Regions from separate parts of the Homo sapiens genome. Here region 2 is linked to region 1. A link means that fine-mapping ties the variant in region 1 to the expression of a gene that starts in the linked region. Tissue or cell type: whole blood. Region 1 holds a variant in brackets; the other region holds the start of a gene. All regions are shown on one strand. Distances are between the middles of the regions.

Region 1 (2,683 bases):
CCATTATCTGTGGATTCCAGATTTTATTTCTAACCAAATGTCCTTTTAAATGTCATTGTCTGAGACTTAGACCATCTAGTTGGGGGGTCAGTATTACTTAAACTTCTAACATCTTGGTACAGTCAGTTCCTAGCCTTAAATGTCTGTTGATACCAGTAAATCTCAAACTTTAGTATAAGGATTACATGAGGAGCATGTTTGTAACATGTAACATGTTTACATGTTAATGGTGTGAATTAAGCCACTCTTCACCTGTTCTCTTAATAATATTTTGGTATCTGTATCTGAATAGGTATTATATAAGTATTATCCCTGTTCTTATGGAGGTCATATGAGATTGATTAGGAAACAATTCAACATTTTCTGTTGACTTGGCAGTCAATTTTGGAGTCACTGTTTCAGAGGCACTTTTCTTGCCATCTTCCAAACTTCTCAGTAGCCATCTTAGAAGGACATTTTGAAGAAGTCCTCTGTGGTCAGTGAACTAGCTCGGAACCACTTAGAGATTGACTCTGCTGGAGAGGATGGATGGAGGGCAGAGTGATTAGGGCAGAGTATTGTGCTGGACTGGGGCTTGTACAACACGGAAGGAGTTGTGAGAAACTGGAGGAGATAGAAATCAAGATGAAGAATGTTACAGTTATACAGACATAACTTTTGTTCAAGCTTGGTTATTCTCTTGCTATGGAGACCTGGAGTTGGTAGACATCAGAGATGTGTTTAGGCAAAGAAATGGGATATCTAGCAAGTGTCAAAGCAGAACTAAGGATTGGGGTGAACAAAAGAGTGATCCAGTGCTCTCTTACTACATACTAGAACCCAAAACTGTTGCCTTAAGGAAAAGGCACTGTTTTGAGGATCCCTTGACCTTACACTATTTGGGAATTGTTGGACCTGAAATGACTTTGCTGCTGATGCTGAACAAGTCTCCCTCCAAACATAAGGTTGTAGACAGGCTAGTTTGCAAGGAGTGCTAAGGATGTCTCCACAGAATGTTTCCTCTGGGGCTTTTCTTTCAGCTTCTCTGTTATCTGTTTTTTTTT[G/T]TTTGTTTTTTTTTTTTTGCATAGGTAAGTGGTTCAGAAGTCAAAACAGTATAAAAAAGTCTCATTCCCACCCTAGTATTCATCCATGCCATCCTTCTCCCTCCCCTACCTTCTAGAGGTAACCATTTTTATTAGTTTGATTATCCTTTAGACTTTCTTAAAAAGTGCAGTTATAAACAAATACTGATACAGATTCTTGTCCTTCCTCTTACCAAAACAAGGAACATACTATCTGTACTGTTTCTATACCTTGCTTCTATATCCTGGAGAGTCTTCGTATCAGTATGCAGAGACTTTCCTCATTAAAAAAATTATAAGTTTTTAATAAGCAGGCATTACTTTTATAATGAACACAAGGATAAAACAAAAGTAGAGTAATGAAATAATTGTTCTTTTTTTTTTTTGAAACAGTAGCTACAGTAACCCATTTGATCTGACTGCATCTTAGCATGTATACATGTCCTTTTGATCTTCCTAAAAAAAACTCATACATAACAATGAATTGAAGAGTTAGTTACCCACATCAGCTCTGTAAATGTATGGCAACTTATGCTAGAGCTTACAGCCATTATGATATGGGGAAGAGAGACTTGCAAAGTTCAGCCAGGGGACCTTCCAGACTTCACTCGAGTGTGATACTTGAACAGGAGGAGATCTTTGTACTGCTAGCAAAGGGATGCTACTCTATAAAAGGTCTTTAAAGGAAAGGAGTGGCCTACCTTATTTTTTTCTTGCTTCCATTTCAGTTTTTGTTCTGGAGATGAATTGCTCTAGAACTTAGTGTCCTGTAACTGTTCCATGTATTAGAACTCTCGCCCATTGCCTTTGGAGCAGTGTGGAAGAATGCTTGTGATTCAGTGTTTGGTGGGAAAAGCAGGAAACAAATTATGTACACCTTATTACAATTGTTTCATATTAAAAACAAATGCATTAGTGAAAGATTAGAAGGGAATATACCAGACTACTGTAACAGAGATTTTGTTAGGGTACTACATACTTTCTCTTTTAATTTTTCTATAATGTGGTTATATTGTTTTTATAATGAAAAAGACACAGGGTTAAAAAGGAAATTTCAGTGTCTGACATGCTTGGAGAAGATTCTAGAGCACTTCTAGATTTCTAGAAGTACTTGGACCTGAGATTTCGTCTGCCAAGCCAAGTACTAGCATTCAGTTCTATAAAGCAAGTAACAGTATCCTTTACTTCACTCTTAACAGTTTCTTTTTGAAAAAACAGACTCCAATGTAAAAAAAAAAAAAACAAAACTCTTTTCACTTCTAAGTACCATTGGACAAGGGACCCCAGTGATATAACAGAAGGGCATTGGTAACCCCATTTCTGCAAGATGGGATGGAACCATTCTTTCCTCCTGATCCTACAATAACCCCAACTCTTCTTAGAGCCAGTGATTTCTTCTTTTAGATCTATTAGATGGGAAGATACGGCACTCTCCTGTGTGTGTGTTTGCATTTCTTTTAGCAAGAAAAACTGCAAAAATCCTTCCCAAGAATTTCCCGTTTTTCCTATTCTGCTTGCATTTTTCTTTTCGGCCACGGGGTGCGCGCAGTTGAGCTATTTTGGCTCAGGTTCCAGATTGTGAGGTCAGAGACTAGGGATTGGAGGAGAAGATCAGGTGACTT
Region 2 (2,683 bases), 74 kb before region 1:
CTGAAACAAGCACGTCTAAGACGTCCGGCTGAGGTCCGGCCCCACCCCCTACCCAACCAGGGAGCTGTCCGGGCCAGGAGTGCTGTTTCGCCTTTCGGCAAGAGGTCAGCGGCAACGCAAGCTCTCTACCACGACCCTGGTCCCGCTTCCCCGACGCCCCGAGCGTTCCCCTTTCCAGCTTGTTCGCGCTTCTGTCCCTCCCAAGGACACTGCAGCACGAGATGGGACGGCATTCTTAGGCGGCGGGAGCAGAAATCCTGCCTGAGTCAGCGCCCGCACCTCCTCCACGCCGGCCTGAGCCAGGCCTCTGCAGCCCCTTCCTCTCAGTACTCCCGCACCCCTCTCCCTTTTTGGTTTCTCCCACCCTGACCACCTGGCCGACCCGGTACCGGTGATTTGGTTCTGGTTCCGGCTTCTGCTGGGGTTCCGGCTCCAGGGGCGTCCTAGTGCGGCTCAGGGCCCCCGACGCCCTTCCGGCGCTCATCCCTTGATTCCTCCCCTCCCCCTTCGCCGCCTCACCGGCCCCGGGCTGTGGCTGCGGATACCCGCGCCGTGGCAGGCGGGGGGAGGGAAGAACAGAGAAGGATGCGGGCTGGCTGAGAGCGGTGGCAGGCTCCGGGCAACTCCGGCCCTGGGTCAGGGAGATCGCCTCCGCAGCCGCCCTGGCTTCCCAAATGCCTTCACCCGTCGCGGGCCCAGGACCAGGGGGCGGAGCGCAGGTGTGCGGGGCGGAGAGCGTGAGCTCTGCGCGCGCGTGACTGCGCCGGGCCCCCCCGGGGCAATGTGCGGCGCCGAGTCTGGGTCCGGGTAGGGGACAGGCGGTCCGGCGTGGGTGTTGTCCACTGGTCTATCCGGTACGCCTGGCGCAGCTCCTGCCCTCAGATGCCCCGACCGAGCGGAGAGTCAGGAATCTTCTCCGAGGGCTGGGGGAAGCCGGCTTTCCGCACCTTTGAGGGACGGAGTGGCGGGATCTTCGGAGCTTCCTAGAGAAGTGACCACGGCCTGCGCCCGGTTTGGGGCAAGCGGCTGGATGGGATGGCTCGGCTTCCCGAGGATCTGACCCCCGGCCGGAGACAAATGGCCCTCGCATCCTAGGAGCTATGCTGCCAGTTCCCTGCCCAACCCGGGACGCTCAAAGCCCCAGATACCGGGAGAGCTGAGCCGGGCGAGGGGCGGAGCTCCCCTGGGGGCGTGGCCTGGGTGTGGATGGAGGCGGGGCCGCAACGCCCAGTTCCGCAGAGGCCGGCTACGTGCTTGCGCAGCACGCACGGCCGGGGAGGGGCTGGCGGCGGCCGCGGGCGGCGGGCGGCGGAGGTGCGGGGCCTGCTCCCGCCGGCACCATGGCCAAGACCGTGGCCTATTTCTACGACCCCGACGTGGGCAACTTCCACTACGGTGAGGAAACAGGGATATGCATGAGGGGTTGGGACACGGAGGTTTTGAGGCGGGGTTGCAACTCCAGGGGTGAGAGCTGACGAACTCTCTTCTCCCCACCCCCAGGAGCTGGACACCCTATGAAGCCCCATCGCCTGGCATTGACCCATAGCCTGGTCCTGCATTACGGTCTCTATAAGAAGATGATCGTGAGTTCCGCCGCCTCGGCCGGGGGTTGGGGGGTGGGGCGAGCTGTGGCCGTAGGGATAGGTGGGCTGGACTGAGTGCATGAAGTGCGACCCGCCCCTAGAGTATCGGGGAGCTGGATAGAAGTCACCAGGAGTACCTTGAAAGTGCAGGGTGTTGGGGGTGGCGTCCTCTGCTTAATGGAAAGTACTTTCTCACCTCAGGTCGGCCACCCTCTGACTGTAGGCACACTAGCCCTTGGCCTAGGGTTAGCGTGATGTGGGGCTGGTTTGAAGACAGAAGGTGTGTTCCTCCTCTGCATTTTAGAGTGTGGATAGGGCCTTGGCCTCAGGAATTAGGGTTAGGGGAGCGGATATCACTGTATCAGGGTGTGAGGTTTACCCTCAGTTCCCACTCCTCTTTTACCACCTTTCTTTACCTCCAAGGAGCTAGGGCTCCAGGGTGGAACGATGCTGCCGTCTTTGTAAATGTGTATGTGCGTGTGGAACAGAGGCGATATTTTAGATATTCCTTTTTCAGCCTGGAATACCTCTACATGGTTCTGCTTAATCGCTATCCAGTTTTTCATCTACCAGACATACACATGCTGTCTTCCCAGCTTGGAATTTATGGCTGTGATATGGGATAGTAACAGTTAAGCCACGCCAGGCGTGGTGGCCCATGCCTGTAATCCCAGCACTTTGGGAGGTTGAAATGGGGGGGATCGCTTGAGGCCAGGAGTTGGAGACCAGCTTGGGCCACAGTGGGACCCACATCTACAAAAAATAAAAATAAAAAAAGTAGCCATGTGCGGTGGGTGTGCCTGTAGTCCCAACTACTTGGGAGGCCGAGGCGAGAGGATGGCTTGGGCCCAGGAGTTTAAAGTTACAGTGATCTATGATCAGCAGCCTGAGTTGACAGGGAGGACCTTGTCTCAAAAGAAAAAATAAGACAAAACAGCTAAACCCAGGCTTTATGTGTTGCTAGGGAAACTAGTGAACAATATGAATGAATGTTCATTGCTTGTGCCAAGGCACAGACAAATGGACTGGTCATAGAAAAGACTGAGGTGATGTTAGTGCAGGAATCTATATCCCTTGAGATTGTTTGCCTGTATGTACCT

What was found. PIP is the estimated chance that this variant, and not a neighbour inherited with it, causes the effect.
Region 2: it holds the start of RELL2, and the variant in region 1 is fine-mapped to the expression of RELL2 in whole blood (INTERVAL, PIP above 0.99).

What each region holds. Positions count from the first base shown.
Region 1 is chr5:141,560,985-141,563,667 of GRCh38, reverse strand. The region is part of intron 18 of DIAPH1 (diaphanous related formin 1); the gene reads left to right. DIAPH1-AS1 (DIAPH1 antisense RNA 1) reads right to left here. Exons shown (of 3, transcript NR_038333.1): 2 at 1,763-1,866; 3 at 1-603. Among named protein-coding and RNA genes, the nearest start is that of DIAPH1-AS1, 4.0 kb to the right of the region's middle. The variant G/T (reference allele first, on the strand shown) is at 1,044.
Region 2 is chr5:141,635,448-141,638,130 of GRCh38, reverse strand. It overlaps RELL2 (RELT like 2), which reads right to left and starts at 1,134. Exons shown (of 7, transcript NM_173828.5): 1 at 1-1,134. It overlaps HDAC3 (histone deacetylase 3), which reads left to right and starts at 1,282. Exons shown (of 15, transcript NM_003883.4): 1 at 1,282-1,395; 2 at 1,501-1,583. The coding sequence starts at 1,341. RefSeq lists an enhancer at 546-595 and silencers at 1,106-1,395, 1,456-1,505, 1,515-1,809.